2 separate regions of the Homo sapiens genome follow, and region 2 is linked to region 1. A link means that fine-mapping ties the variant in region 1 to the expression of a gene that starts in the linked region. Tissue or cell type: lymphoblastoid cells. Region 1 holds a variant in brackets; the other region holds the start of a gene. All regions are shown on one strand. Distances are from middle to middle.

Region 1 (8,109 bases):
GAAAGAAAGAAAAGAAAAGAAAAGAAGGAAGAAAGAAAGAGAAAAAATCACCTGAGGTCAGGAATTTGAGACCTGCCTGGCCAACATGGTGAAGCCCTGTCTCTACTGAAAATGCAAAAATTAGCCAGGGGTGATGGTTTGCAGTGGTGGAAGGAATGAAGGAAGGAGAGAGAAAGACAGAGAGAGACAGAGGGGAAGGGAGGAAGGCCATGTGAGGACAAAGAGAGAAGGTGACCATCATGAAGGCATTAATGCTGTTATCATGGGAGTAGTTTCCTGATAAAAGGTTAAGTTCAGCAACCTTCCCCCTCTCCCTTCTCTTTCTGTCTCTCCCTTGCCCTCTTGCCTTCCACCATGGGGTGATGCAGCTAGAAAGCCTTCATCTGACGCCCAGTAGATGGCCTTGGACTTCCCAGCCTCCAGAACCATGACCCAAAGAAATGTCTACTTATTATAAATTACCCAGCCTGTGGTAATCGGTTATAGCAACATGAAATGAACTAAGATACTTGCTCCTTGCTACTTACCCCCAAAAGTTGAAGACAAAAGTCTGCACATGGATGATTATAGAAGTTTGTTGGTTTGTTTTTTGAGACAGAGTCTTGCTCTATTGCCCAGGCTGGAGTGCAATGGCACGATCTCAGCTCACTGCAACCTCCGCCTCCCGGGTTCAAGTGATTCTCCTGCCTCAGCCTCCCGAGTAGCTGGGACCATAGGTGCACACCACCACCCCTGGCTAAGTTTTGTATTTTTAGTAGAGACAGGGTTTCACCATGTTGGCCAGGCTGGCCTCGAACTCCTGACCTCAGGTGATATGCTCACCTTGGCCTCCCAAATTGCTGGGATTACAGGCGTGAGCCACCATGCACAGAAAATTATAGAAGTTTTATTCATAAATTCTCAGCACTTGAAAGCAATCAAGATGTCCTTCAGTGGGTGAATGGATAAATAAACTGGTACATCCAGACAATGGAATATTATTCAGCACTAACAAGAAATGAGCTATCAAGCCATGAAAAGACATGGAGAAAACTTAAATGCATATTACTAAGTAAAAGAAGCAAATCTGAAACAGCCACGTCCTGTATGATTCCAATTATATGACATTCTGGAAAAGGCAAAACTATGGAAATAGTGAAAGAATCAAGGGTTGGCAAGGAGGAAGAATGAGTAGGCAGAGCACAGAGGATTCTTAGGCCAGTAAAACTATTCCGTATGATACTATAATGATGGATGCATGTAATTATGCATTTGTCAAAACCCATAGAATGTACAATACCGAGGGTGAACCATAATGTGATCTGTAGACTTTGGGTGATAATGACACATCAGTGCAGGGTCATCAGTTGTAACAAACGTAGCACTCTGGTGCAGGACGTTGATAGTGGCAGAGGCTATGCATGTGTGAGGGCAGGGGAGATATGGAACATCCCTGTACTTTCTGTTCAATTTGGCTATAAACCTAAAACTTTTCCAAAAATTAAAGTCTATTTCGAAGAAAACAAGAAATACCCATGATCAGTTTTTCTTGTCCCTAGGTGAAAGATGTCATAAGCTAGGGGAGAAAGAATAACAGAAGAAGAAATAGTGAGAGTAGATGCCAACCGGTACCCAAAGAAGTGCACTGTGCCTTGATCCAACGTTAAGGCATGTGACAAGGGAGGGACTGTGCCTGTTCCTGAGTAGAGCCCAGGAAAATTCCATGCTTCAGTGTTTCCTTGCACCAAATCATGTGCAGGTATGGTAGCGGCTGGGGTAGCTGCAGGTCATGTCTAGACAAGCAGGTCCGAGACTGCCTTCTTGTAGAATTCCCACAGGTCGCAGAATGTCGTGGGGTTGGAGGAAAGCCCAAGATTGGCACAGAGATAATACAGAACCTCCTCAAACAGCTCCCCAAGGCTCCTGCTGCCTGTGTGGCATGAAAGACACCGAGAAAAAGCCAAACCAGGAGAGCCTTGAAGTGCAAAAGTGACCCCCATGGACAAACATTCAAATCCCAGAGGAAACAGAAACTTCAGAGTGGATGCAAGAGAGGCTGCAGGATGGTGGCTGAAGACCAGAGGTCCCAATTTCCAAACCGATTTCCCCTCCTCCACTCCCCACCCCAGAATAAAAGCCCAATTCCTGCTTTGAAAGGAAAGGCCCTAGATTGGCTATGACTATGATTCTTCTGTTTACCAAGGGTGAGAGCTCAAAGTACCAAAAAAATGTTTAAGTTTGCTTACAGAAAAAGAAAGTTTTGTTTTATATGTATCTGAATTAGTTGGCTTTTGATTTTTCTTCTTCTTTTTTTTTTTTAGGCAATATTCACTGATCCAACCCCGAATGCTTTTAGTGACAATGATAATGAAAAGGATTCTGAGAGATGAATGAGACTCAGTATAATAAGAAGGAGAGAAGGCCGTATTATCGTTTACCTTACGAAAACTGGTAGCATATGTTTATTTTTTTTTAAAGCATTGGCTCAAAAATAAGATACAACAAAGATCATATGTGATATGGTTTGTTTCCCTTTCAAAATAGTAATGATGGTTAATCCAAGTGATTTATATGTATCATATGCCATACGGGAAGATCTCATGTCAACAAACTGTCACCATACCTCCTCCACAGACAGGAGCACAGGCATGCAGGAATAGAAGTAGCTTATTTGAGAGCCACACACCTAGCATTTAATGGAAATGTAGCAGAAATGCAAGCTGTGTGGCCGCAGGACATAAGTTCTTGGCCCCCTGTTGGAGGGCCTCTGATGCCTTAGCTTGCAACTGTGTGTAATCAATGGCCTAAGTTTTTGTTAGCTCATGTCAGGCCTCCACTCTGATATGGTAGGTCCACCAAGACTTGCTCTTGCTCAGCAACTTTAGAAAGAAAGACCCTGACTTCAGAGAATTGCCCAGGACAAGCTCCAGATGAGGCCTGAGTTCACTTCAACAAAAAATATTTCATGAAGACAAGTGCTGATGGCTGTTGCAGAAAGTAGGAGGCTCACTACAACTCGAGAGGCCAGCCAGGGTCACTCCTGCCCTCGTGGCTCTACTTAGGATTGACAGTGAAAAAGCAAAGTATACTTAGTTCATGGACTATTTTGGGCCGTCTCTAAATAAGCCATGTGAGAGATAGTGGGTCAAAGCTAATTTGTTTTAGATGGAGTATGAAGAGGAAGTACGGAACACAGCTTGGTGGGGTTAGGGCTCTTTCTCTTTGCTTTATAATTTGGCATTCAGAATCAATATGAATAACATGAGTGAAGAAAGTCAATTAATAGCCCAAGTTTTATTGCTAATAAAAGAACACGTACATACATAAAGCCCGATGGTCGATCTTCCCTGGAGGTGTCCGAGCTACTTGGCCTGAGGCCCAGGCATAACTTCAGTACTGTTTGTCCTGCTGCCACCAAGTGCAACGTCCTCACCTGCTGCTGGGCACAGGGGATGGAATCTGACCCGCTTCTGGGTTATTGTTGGACAAAAAGTGGTCTGGCTGTAGGTCAAAACAAATTTGGCCCTTTAAAGTCTCTGAGGGTTGGGGC[G/A]AGTCCTGAAAAACAGTCACAAGACCATAATAGGTTCCTTATGAGCACTTCTGTTCTCCAACGACATTGAGCCTGGTGTTCACAGGCGCTGACCTCAGAAGTGCGTCTCAGAGGCAGCCTGGGGCTGTAGGGAGGCACAGCTATAAATGGATGCTGTGCAGCTGTGAGGGGAGCTATTTTGGGATCCCAGGGGGTCTCATTTGTACTTCAGGTTAGGAAGCTTCCAGGTGAAGGCGTGTGATGTGGGAGTGGAAAGGGAGACCAGACCAGACCAGACCAGACATAGCCCTCCCTCCTCCTGCCCTCTTCCCCTGCTGGTTCCCCCAAGCCGTGTCCCCCTCTTTCTTCAAAGACTTCACCAGCACAGGGTCCTGGAGCCTTGTGGAAATGCAGGAGAAACACAAAAGGGGGAAGAGGGAGAAAGTGTCTCCCAGCCCCGAGTATTCAAGGAAATTGCCTCCTCAGCTGTGTTCTAGATAAGACTGTGCTGACCTTTGCAGGATGGGCAGAGATGCCAAGGCCTCAGGCTCTGTTGCCTTTTGCATCCACTTCAGTGGCTTTCAAATTGGAGGTAACCTGGAAGCTGACGTGAGAAGAGAGGGTGTCAGACCCGCCTTCACAGTTCAGCCCTGGCCCACTCTAAGGGACGAAGGAGTTGGATCCTTCTTCCTCACAGGCCTAGTGCCTCTGGCTTCAGTTGGTGTGACCTTAGAGCCCTCTGAGCAGTACAGCTCTGAAGGACATCTCCTCTTTCTCCCCACTTCAAGCTAACCTGAAATTACCTCACTGGTCATGTTAGATTAGAGGCAATGGCAGAGTAATGGTTTCTCCTATTGGCCCATGCTTAATGGATCAGATTAATGGCTGCCATTTTGAAGACAGCAGATGTAATTCAGCAGCTTACATTGCTTTACACATGTACACTTCAGAGACACACAGGTCTGGGTTAGAATGCTAGGTTGCTACATCTTAACTACGTGGCCTTTGGCAAGTCATCTCCCGGAGACTCAGGACCTCACTTACAAAATGGGAATAACTATCATTCTGCCTCAGGGGTCATTGTGACAATTAAATGTGGCAAAATACTCAGCACCATGCATGGCACATGGTTAGTGCTCCAAATAGGTAATTCATTTTTGTGATGGATATACTATATCCATTCTTACTAATGGATGGGGAAAGAGAAGTGAAGACAAGAACTCTTGCGGTTTGGGGCTACCCAAGACCCTAGTTCTGACATACCTTGTCACTGTTGAAGGACCCTCCTGCTATAGGCCAAATATTTGTGTCCCTCCAAAATTCGTATGTTGAAACCCAATCCCCAGTGGGATGGTTTTTGGAGGTAGGGTCTTTAGGAGGTGATTAGGTCATGAGGATGGAGCCCTCATGAATGGGATTAGTGTTCTTCCATGAGAGACGCTGGAGAGCTCCCTTGCCCCTTCTGCCATGTGAGGACTCAGTGAGAAGAAGACTTTCTATGAACCAGGAAGCAGGCCCTTGCCAGACACTGAATCTGCTGATGCCTTGATATTGGACTTTCCAGCCTCCAGAATGGTGAGAAATAACTTTCCATTGTTAATAAGATACCCAGTCTGTGGTAGTTTTTTATAGCTGCCCAAAGGGACTAAGACACCTCCTGAACTATGAAAAAGAGAAGTAATAAGGTGAGGAGAAGGGACCAAGGATGTAGTCCAACTCTCTCTGCCTTCTCATAGGCCTGAGGCTGGCCTGCAGGTTGAGCTCTGAAGAGTTTCTGATGTCTACAGCCCAGAAGACCAGGTGTTCTGAAGATTCCTGTCACCAGTGCTGAGATGTTCTGAATGAACAGCTCTACAGGAGAAATATAGCAATCAAACTACAAGGTACTATAGAAATAGAGTCCATATCCTCTCCTTCTTATGAGGAGATAAAGGCTCAGAGAGGTGAAGGAACAGCAGGGCCAAGACAAAGAACCAGGTCTTTCCCCTCCCAGGTCAAAATGCATAAGGTGTTGTAAACCAAGACAATTGTTAGACTAGAGTCTTAGAAAATCACTTGAGTTTACCCAGGTGACTTTTTGTTGTTTTTAGGTACTATCCAACTGAACATGGTAGAATGAAGGAATTGATTTTTCATCAGAAATCTATAGTTTGTAAATATAGCATATGGGGGTCTAAATTGTATTATTGTCTAAAAAAAAATCTTATTGGTGGATGGGAAGGTACAGTTCAGCCCACATTAAAGAGACTCATAAATCTATGAGGAAACTTCTCCAGCACCCCAAACACGTCCAGTGAAAACTCTGACCTCACCAGCATCTTGCAAAGGCCCACAATGAGCAAATGAACCTAGAAGGGGGACCCTGTAATTGAAGTGTTTGGTAAACAAGGGTCTTGGCAGCAAATATCAAGAGCCAGCTTGAGCTTCAGGAGCTTCTTGATGGTGGAACTTCCCCAAATTTGAGTTGATCCTGAGCAAATATGAAACTGTGTGCTGCTCAAAGAGTGTCTTGATTCTCAAGGGAACATAGCTTATCCTCATAGCCTTGGGCTTTCCAAAGGTCATATGAGGAAACTGTCTGCATTCCCTCTGTAAAGGCAAAAGTAATTATCTCTTATGTCCTTCAATGTCCCTTACAGTGTGACCTCATAATATATCATCCAAACCAAGACATGTTGAATATTAACAATTTCCTTGGGACAGCAGGTATAAACTGTGACTATCCTGGGCACACTAAGGTGTGTGGTTACTCCCACTTTAAAAAATCAACATGCGCAATCCATACCACCAATTAAAAAGAGCCAACGTGATGATTCCCTCTTGAAACATAAAACTTGGAGCTGTATGTCTTCTTTGAATAAATGCCTTTCTTTTTTAATCAGGCAACAAGGAGAGGAGACAGAAGCTATGCAACCTGATTTTTTCCCTTTTGCCTGAGCTCTGGGAAGTTCAGAATGAAGTTTTACTTCAGTTGTCTTGGATTCCCGGTATAATTGTCTTCTTCACCCCCATGTTCTGCTCTGAAGAGGCTCCTAACACAGCACATCGAGATAGAAAGCTGATTTTAATAAATGACTTCCAAATCCTTCTCAAGCAGGTCGATACAGCAAGCACACATCCTGGATTTTGTGTCAGTCTGATATCACTCACATATTCAGCCTTGCTTTCCTGATAAACTATTTGAAGATCTAAGGAATTACACTTCTTTGTCTTCCAAAATGATTGCATTAATCAAACACCTTTTGAACTCCTGCCATGCACTAGAAAGGTGACAGGGATATTATCAGTGAACAAAATAGACAAAAATTCCTCCCTTGGTGGAGTATACATTCTAGTGACGGAGATGAACAATAATTGATAAATTCACCAGATAATCAAATTATATAACAGGTTACGGGGTGATCATTGCAATGGAAAAAATAGCATAGGGTAAGGATAATTGGGAATGTCAATGGTTGGTTTGGAGGGTAAACTTTAAGTGAAGTGGGTAGGAGTCATTGAAAATATGACATTTGAGTAGAGTGAACATATAATTTATCATCCAAACTGAAAAACATTTAACAGGACAAAGGGAAGCTATTCATAATTATGCTGGGACAGCAGGTGAGAACTTGGACTGTCCTGGGCAAACAGGGACATATGATTGCCCTACATGTAAGCAAAGACTTGAAGGATGTGAGAATCAGCCTAGCAGATACATGGGCAAGGAAGGGTTCGGGCAGAGGGAGCAGAAAGTTCCAAAGCCCAAGCAGCCTTGCAAAGTAAGAAGATGCCCAGTGTGGCTGGAGGAGAATAAGCCAAAGAAGAGTGGTAAGAAATGAGGTCAGTGAGGTTCTGGGGACCCCAGATTGTGCAGCCTTTGTAAGGGTTTTGGTTTTTCTCTGATAGAAACAGGGAGCCATTGCAGGGTCTTGAGTCAGGCAGTAACATGATCTGGCTTATGTTTTACCAAGATTCACTTCGGCTGCTGTGTTGACAATAGGGTTGGTGTATCAAGGACTTGGAACCAACCCAAATGCCCATCAATGATAGGCTGGATAAAGAAAACGTGGCACATATACACCATGGAATACTATGCAGCCATAAAAAAGGATGAGTTCATGTCCTTTGCAGGGACATGGATGAAGCTGGAAACCATCATTCTCAGCAAACTAACACAAGAACAGAAAACCAAACACCACATATTCTCACTCATAAGTGGGAGTTGAACAGTGAGAACACATGGACACAGGGAGGGGACCATCACACACTGGGGCCTGTCGGGGGTGTGGGGGGCTAGGGGAGGGATAGCATTCAGAGAAACACCTACCATATCTAATGTAGGTGAGGGGTTGATGGGTGCAGCAAACCACCATGGCACGCGTATAACTATGTAATAAATCTGCACGTTCTGCACATGTACTTCAGAACTTAAAGTATAATTAAAAAAAGAAAATAGCGTTGGTGAGAAGGAAAGTAGGGAGGCAAGTTAGAAGGGAGCAGAGCCATAAAAGGGGTAAGAAGTCAGATTCTGGACATATTTTGAAGGTAGAACTGATAGGATTTTTTGTTGATTTGGATGTCAAGTGCATAAGGCCAGTCAAGGATGACTCTGGGATTCA
Region 2 (8,109 bases), 990 kb before region 1:
GTGATGTAAATGACAGCTACTATTACTTACAACACGGTTTCCATGGGAAAAAACTTTCTGAACTCTAACAGTGGAAGTTTGTCTGAAATAACCTTTCATTAACTTGAGATTGTTCTTACGCCTTACAAATTATGATCTATAAGGCCTTTTCCCAAAAACCTTGAGGAAAACTCTAGATTTGAAATGTATCAAACAAATGTCCATCATATAGAAACTGACAGGTTTTAGAAGAGCTAATCATTACTTTGGTTTTTCAGAGGAGTATTTATCATACTCATTATACCTCATACTAAAAAAAAGTATGCATTAGGAATTCTAAAAACTGGTGCCAAAAGTTATTTCAAGTTAGAAAGGCAAAAAACAGGCCAGGCACGGTGGCTCACACCTGTAATCCCAGCACTTTGGGAGGCCAAAATGGGCGGATCACCTGAGGTCAGGAGTTCAAGACCAGCCTGGCCAATGTAGTGAAACCCCATCTCTACTAAAAATACAAAAATTACCAGCCTGGCCAATGCGGTGAAGCCCCATCTCTACTAAAAATACAAAAATTAGCCAGGTGTGGTTAGCTACTCAGGAGGCTGAGGCAGGAGAACTGCTTGAACCCGTGAGGCAGAGGGTGCAGAGAGCTGAGATCACGCCGTTGCACTCCAGCCTGGGCAACAAGAGCGAAACTCCATCGCAAAAAATAAAATAAAATAAAATAAATAAACCTATTTAAATACAAAATATTTCCATTCCCTTACTTTCTGGTGCATATTCAAATACGAACACATCGATTATCACCATAAAACAGCCTGCCTCTTCCTGTTGTGACCAAGATATAAGTATCAAGTACAGAATGCGGCAATGGATCTGCAGACTCTTGATGACCTTCTTATTTCCCAAGCTATGCAAAGGTATTTACAACATCCAAAACTGCACCCCAAAAGGTATTTCCAACTGCGTGGTGTTCAGCAAAGGACATGTTCATTCATTTAGTTCCTAAAACGAACTGAAATTAGCATAAATAAATGAAGATTTATATGGCCAGTCCTTATCCCTGTACTTTCCAAGTACCTAGCAAGTACTCTGAGAAATATTCAAAAATCTTTCTATAAGCCCCATTTAAGGTATAATGCTGGAGTTTCCCACTCTATTTTTCCACTGTTAGTACAATAAAACTACCTAATAACTAACAGAGCTGTTGTATTCAAAAAAGTATTGTTTCAAACTCATGAAAAGCTGTTTATCATGTACCTTCCCATCAACTGATGAAAATGATGTATTTCAAGACCAAGAAGGCATAAAGTAGGATGTTAGATCCCTGTCGGCAACAACTGAATGTCATTACCATCTGTCAGCTTCTGAATAGGTTACAGGAAACAAGGTGACAGACAGGCTAATTCTTTATGGATAAGTATCCATATTACATCATCACAACTAGTACTCATTTGCACCTTCACAAGAAACTGCCACAAAGGGGAACAAAAACATTCAACTGATATGTGCATTATGAAAAAGCTTTTTAAAATGGTATAAAAATATAAATAAGCTTCTGAAGTGTAGAATATTTAGACTTACAAGGCATATTTCAGATTTGCCATTTTTGATATAACTGAAATCAAAGGGAATATTTGCACAGTTTGAGGAATAAAATGAGGTATAATTCAGAAGTGTAACTCTGTACAGATGGCCTGATCCCAATACAAGATGTTAACAAAGCAGGCTGGCGGGGGAGGGGGGTAAACCTGCATTTTCTATGCTGTATTTTAGCTGATTCCCCCCACCGCTTATTTTTTAAAAAAGCAGGGGGAGAGGGCATGAGGGGTAATATTTAAGATTCAATAACTTCTAGTAAACAGAAAATAAATCTCCTTTAGATTATGTGTGCCAAGTGAATCTACTTACTGTTTTCAAGTGTGTTTGGGAAGTCATTTCGTGTTACTCTGATAAATAACATTTGGAAAATATGACAAGTAGATTTTAGTTTCTTGCCTCAGAAGTATTCTACTAAAAGAAGTAACTAGGTAGTATTTCAGTTCCATTTACCTAATAAATATTTTTCATTTAAAAGATAAAAAATGCGGCACAAATACCTATCATGCTGTTCAATGATGAGAAAGTAATTTTCATTTGTAAATTATCCTAGTCAATGCAAAAAGCTACTTGAAAAAGATAGTCAAATTACCATCAGCAAGAAATAATGGGTGAAGTGCCAAACGTCTTTCATGAAACTCCTTAAAATGGCTTACTTGTATGTAATACAAAATTATGGCTATTTCTGAAAGGTTTCAGCATTTAATTACTTAGCTCCAAATTGGCACATCACATTATTTTTGTTAACTCCCAAGTCTTGAAAACAAAGGGCCTAAAATTTTCTGAGAAAGCTTATATTCCTATTCTTGAAGCAAATTTTTCTCATTCTTTCACAATCGTCCCAATGGACAATCTAAGACAAAGACCAGCTACCCTTCACACTTATTTGCTCAATCATGAACGTAGAACTTTCGTAAAAACAAAGAAGATAACCTGGAACACGGTAATGTATAAACTTAAAACAAAAGTTCACTTCTGTCGTGAAAAATAATGAAGAAATCTGATGAGATCATAAAGCCACGAAGCTTCCTGTTGGTAGCTGAGGATGAAGTCATTAGCAACCCAGGATTCCCTGGTCCATGTAATCAGAAGCTGCACCTACCAGATTCTGTATTGTTCGGGAGAGGTGGCTTTAAAACACCCCGCTCACCAATTCTCCAAACCAGACCACGCCTTCCAGTTATCATTCAAATGGGACCGTTTCACAGTGTGGCACTACTACACATTTCCCGCGAGCTTAAATATCAAGTAGGAGTCAAAATTTTAGATTCCCTTGGTCATGCAAGATGAACTCTTGAACCCCACGCTACATAATGCACCCGGACCTTAAAGGCCGAGATGGAGAAGCATGCTTTGGTTCTTCAACCTTTACGGCCTTCACTACCCCCACCCCAACCCCCGCCCCATTTCTTCCCAACTCTCAGTCACCCCGAGGCATAGAAGGCAAAGAAAGATTCCTTACTTCCTGCTGTTGTTAAAAGGGGAGGAAACCTAAGAGCAACTTTGAACGCGTGGAAGAAAAATCGCCTAAATCTTGGCCACCAGCGCAAACATATGTCACCCGGCCCTGGAGCCGCGTTCGCGCCCTGCCGGGCCCCCTCTTCTGCCCTGCGCCCCGGGGATTCTCCCGTAGCCCAGCCCTCCCGGGCCCCCCAGTGTCTCCGGGACGCGGTTCCGCGACTCTTCCTCTCCCGCCTCCGCAACCCTCACACGCCGGAGTCCCCAAGACCGCATTGTCGGCCACCCAGGTTCCAATACAATGGATCGCCACTGCCCCAAACTCTCCGGCGCCCCCTTCGGACCCCCGGCGCCAATCCTGGGTCTCACAGATCCCGAGTTCAGCCACGAGCCCAAACTTCACCATGTGAGAGCCCAGGACCCAAGAGGTGACGGAGCCCCACGACTCCCGCCCAGCTATTCCTTCACCCGCCGTCCCCAGGCGCGAATCCTGCACCGGGCGCCCCCACCTACCCGCGACCACCCCGTAGGAGTCATCAGCCGCCTCCCCCGAGCTGGCCGAGGGCGAGCGGAGGGCTCCCCGCCCGGCCCAGACCTCTGGGCGGCGCTGCAACCGAGCGAAGGCCCCAAACGCATCCCCGGCCTTTCCTGGTCCACCGCGACCCCGCCGCCCACCCTCCCTACCTGGCCTTGAGGCTGGGGCTGCTGCCGCTACTGCAGCTGCCACTGCTGCAGCTGCTGCTGGCGGCGGCGGCGGCGGCTCGGGGTTCGTACGCCCAGGCTGGGGCGGGGGGCTGCGCAGCGGCGCTGGCGGGGACGGGGGCGGCGGGGGGCGCGGGCGGCGGCGGCGGCGGCGGCTCGGTGAAGCCCGAGGTCGCGTAGTTCCTGTCCATCGTGGGGGTGGCGTAGGGAGGGCGGGCAGCAGCGGGGGATCCTCCAGGGCTCCGTGTGACGGGGGCGGGCAGGGAGAGGGGGCGGGGGAGGAAGAGGGGGCGGCGGCGGTGGAGGGAGCTGCCCCCTCACATGGCCCCGGCGAGCAGGCGGGAGAAGGGCGCGCTGGCGAGTCTGGGCCGCAAAGACCCGGGCCGCGGCGGGCGGCGAGGCCCCAGCTGGGCGTCAGGGAAGCGGAGGCACCCGCGGCCGGGACTCGCGGCGACGGCGGCGGCGGCGGCGGCCGCTGCGCCCCATGTTGGTGGATTTCCCAGGATGCACCTCCCGCCCCCCTCCGCCCCGCGGCCTTGCCCCGCCTCCCCTCTGAGCCCCGCGCTTGCCGCTCGCGGGGCTGGCGGGCGGCCGCGAGGCCTCCGCCACCGCAGGACGCTTCGCGAGGGACAGTTGGGGCCGAGAAGGCGCGGGTCCTGCGGGGCCCGGCCGACTTCAGGGACTCCGAGGGGCGCCCGCCAGCCGGAGCCCGCGAACCGCAGACTTCCCGCCTTCCGCAGCCCGGAAGGGAGCTGTCCGCACTCGCCGCGGCCCGCGTGGGAAGGGACCGCGCCTGGCTATCGCCCCGCGCGGGGGAGGGGAAGTGGAGTGGAACCCAGCGTAGGGCGCTGCTCAGGGGTAGCCGGGTCAACGCTTTGCTTGGAGCTCACTATTTGACCCTTCGGGTTATTTTGAGGGACTCCAGTACTCAGTTCCCTGATCGCGATTTCTTTCTCTGCGCCCCAATCCAGAAACAGCTGAGCGAGCTCTTTTGCAGTTCCGCTTACTCCCTCCCCAAAGCTTGCTGGGCTAGAGGACCCTTTTCCTGCTGTTAGGGGAGATTTATATTCAAAGAGATTCAAATTCAAACGTATTATTTTCCAATCCTCGCTGAAAGGGCCTTTCCCAAGGGCTCTTATTAACTGTCCCCACCCCCACCTTGGGGATTTTTCTCGCTCTGGGTTTCAGAATCTTCTATCCCAAGATAGATAACCACCTCTTCATTGATTAATCCAACTACCATCTGGATGACTTTAATTACAATAAATTTAAACTCACCATGCACTCTGATGTTGAGGGGTTTTGTTTGAGACTTGGAACTTCAGCAGGACTCTCTCCCCAAACATTTCCTATCTGATCTCCAAGCTGCTTGGTGTGCGGTAATTTAATGACTATTTGCGGTTCTTCTGTTGCATAGCAGAGTTGTATTTCTTGTAATAACTCACAAGTATTGAAACTAGGGAATCGTACAAATCATCGTTTGGCCCTTGGGCCATAAATTTAAAGGTTAAAATAACAGTAAAATTTCTATTTAATGACCACCTCCTTTTAAAAATCAATATTGGTTTAACACCTATTATGTGCTTAGCACAGAAATCTATCCCTCAAGATAAGCATAACATAAAGGTTTAAGCAAATCAGCCGTAGTGAAAGACCTAATAAACTTGATACGCTATCTCTGATGACCATTGAAAAAGTTTAAACTTTGGTAATAATCTGGTGTTGGATCTGCTATGCCTTGCGAGATTAATTTTGTTCTGGAAGATCCTGTTTTCCTCCTGGCGCCTACATCCTTTTGTTCCTATTCATTCCTTTTTGCAAGTCTTTCTGCACCTGTGATGCTTGGAGCCTGGTCCCCGGGTGGGGAAGCAAGGAAGTGAGTAGTCGTTATTTACACATGAATTCAAACGTGTAGGCACAGCGACTTTGCCAATTTTATGTTAATTACAAAATGCATTTACTGAGGATATCTTTGAAAAGTGGTTTTTCTTTGAAAAGGAATTTGCGAACTAATCTGAGTTCATGCAGAGAAGTAACGTAAATCTTCATTACATTTATTTTTCTTCCTGCAAACTGGAAATGTGGGATCTAAATTAAAAAGTTTTCACAACTAGCTATTATATTTATAAGTACTTTTGTGAGCGCTAAAGTTTTGTCTCTATGAAAAGTATAGGAAATGGAGTGGCATGCTATAAATGTTTTATGACACTTAGTTTGAGATACCCACAACTGGCACTCAGAGTGAGTTACGCAGGCAATACCAAACAAGTGGCAATAAAACCTTTATAGTCCCTCACACCATTATGTAGTTTGTTTATGTCACATAAATCAGGGAAAGATATTAAGGGAAAATTCTAGTGAGTATTTTTAGTAATATTACTCTGTCACCATATGTTCCTTTGCCATTTAAATGAAATTTCCTTAGTTCACTCTAAATCAGTACAATTATATTTATTTTCAAATGTTACATGTCTACAAATAACATCATTACATTTTTTATCAATACTATTTTTAATTGACAAATCATAATTGCATACATTTATGGGGTACAATGTGATGCTTTGATATATGTAAATAAATCTTTTAAAAATTTTGTACACTTGATGATACTATCTGAAGAATGTCTTCTTCCCTACTGAAAATATACTTCCAGCTCTGTGAACGTTTCGGGATCTCTCAAATGATTCGTAACCAAGCTGCTTCAAGTCTGATCTAGGTAATGTCAAACTCTAGAATGAGCATTGTTGGTCCCGTGTTTTTGTTTGTTCGTTTTTTCAGACAGTCTCGCTCTGTCGCCCAGGCTTGAGTGCAGTGGGGTGATCTCGTCTCACTGCAACCTCCGCCTCCCGGATTCAAGCGATTCTCCTGCCTCAGCCTCCTGAGTAGCTGGGAATACAGGCGCATGCCACCACGCCCAGCTAATTTTTTTGTATTTTTAGTAGAGACGGGTTTCACCATTTTGGCCAGGCTAGTCTCGAACTCTTGACCTCAGATGATCCGCCTGCCTCAGCCTCCCAAAGTTCTGGGATTACAGGCGTGAGCCACCGCGACCTGTGAAATACGTATTGATTTTCTAATGGGATGGGAGTTAGGGTGGAAAATGTGGGGAGATTGTTCATGGGCATGTTCTAAGGCATGACTAACTCTAGACAATAAACTCAGAAGGAAGTGGGAGATGGAGGTGAGGAAGAAGGAAAGAGTTTTTTTTGTTTTTTTTCAGACAGGGTCTCGCTATGGTGTCCAAGGCTGGTCTTGAGCTCCTGGCCTCAAGCAATCCTCCCACCTCAGCCTTCCAAAGTGCTGGAAGATTCCTTCTTAAGTGTAGGATTTACTCCAATTCATCTTAAAACCAAACTGCCTTTGATTTAATCAATTTTCAAATCTTGCCCCGATTTTAGAATTGAGATAGAGTGTTTTGGTTTTTCTTTTTTGGGGGGGAAAGGAAAGGAATATGTAAATGACTAATTGGAACTTCTGAATGGGCATTTTTTTTTCTTAGATAGCGTCTTGCTCTGTCGCCCAGGCTGGAGTGCAGTGGCGCGATTTCGGCTCACTGCAAGCTCTGCCTCCTGGGTTTTACGCCATTCTCCTGCCTAAGCCTCCCGAGTAGCTGGGACTACAGGTGCCCGCCACCACGCCCAGCTAATTTTTTGTATTTTTAGTAGAGACGAGGTTTCGTCGTGTTAGCCAGGATGGTCTCGATCTCCTGACCTCGTGATATGCCCACCTCAGCCTCCCAAAGTGCTGGGATTACAGGCATGAGCCACCGCATCCAGCCTGAATGGGCATTTTTAAAGTAGCTTACATATTTATTCATTCAATAGATATGTATTTAGAGCCTAATACAGTGCCAAGCATAATACTAAATGCTGTGAATACGAGGGTAAATTTAATACAACGCCTGTCTTTATGGAACCTGTAATTTATGAGGAAAAGAGGCAGACACACAACTAATTGTAATGCAATAGGATAGTGTTAAATATAATAGAAATTGGAATAAAGCACCAGAGGACAATTGAAAAGGAAGTAATTGATTTTGCCTCTCAAAAAAAAAAAAAAAAGAAAATAAGTATTTCAACTGGTAGAAAGATTGTAGTTCTATTGAGTACATAGTTCATTGCCTTCCTTTTGTAGTTGAGGAAGCTGAGGCCTGGTATTGAGTGACTTGCTTTAAGATGATGGAGGGAATCAGTTGGGGTGAGACCCAGGAAACCCCATCTTCACTGAGGTGGCCTTGTTCATTAGCTTGTTGGGAAATGCAGAATTTGGGGTTGCCTAACTAGAAATGTAGTCAGTAAGTCCACACATTCCTATGTTATAAATAGACCAACCATCAAGAAGAAAGATCCAAGAAGGTCAAGTTTGTGGTTTCAC

Alleles and levels. Alleles are on the strand shown, and positions count from the first base shown. SD is a standard deviation of normalised expression in the study named.
For the expression in lymphoblastoid cells of the gene that starts at base 4,241 in region 2, allele G in region 1 goes with a lower level than allele A (moderate effect, 0.70 SD a copy in GTEx).

Evidence for each region. PIP is the estimated chance that this variant, and not a neighbour inherited with it, causes the effect.
Region 2: it holds the start of QSER1, and the variant in region 1 is fine-mapped to the expression of QSER1 in lymphoblastoid cells (GTEx, PIP above 0.99).

Annotation. Positions count from the first base shown.
Region 1 is chr11:31,898,822-31,906,930 of GRCh38, reverse strand. No RefSeq gene overlaps it. Among named protein-coding and RNA genes, the nearest start is that of PAUPAR, 76 kb to the right of the region's middle. The variant G/A (reference allele first, on the strand shown) is at 3,530.
Region 2 is chr11:32,888,943-32,897,051 of GRCh38, reverse strand. QSER1 (glutamine and serine rich 1) reads right to left here and starts at 4,241. Exons shown (of 13, transcript NM_001076786.3): 1 at 3,718-4,241. The coding sequence starts at 3,926. RefSeq lists silencers at 3,469-3,868, 3,949-4,568 and an enhancer at 5,316-5,890.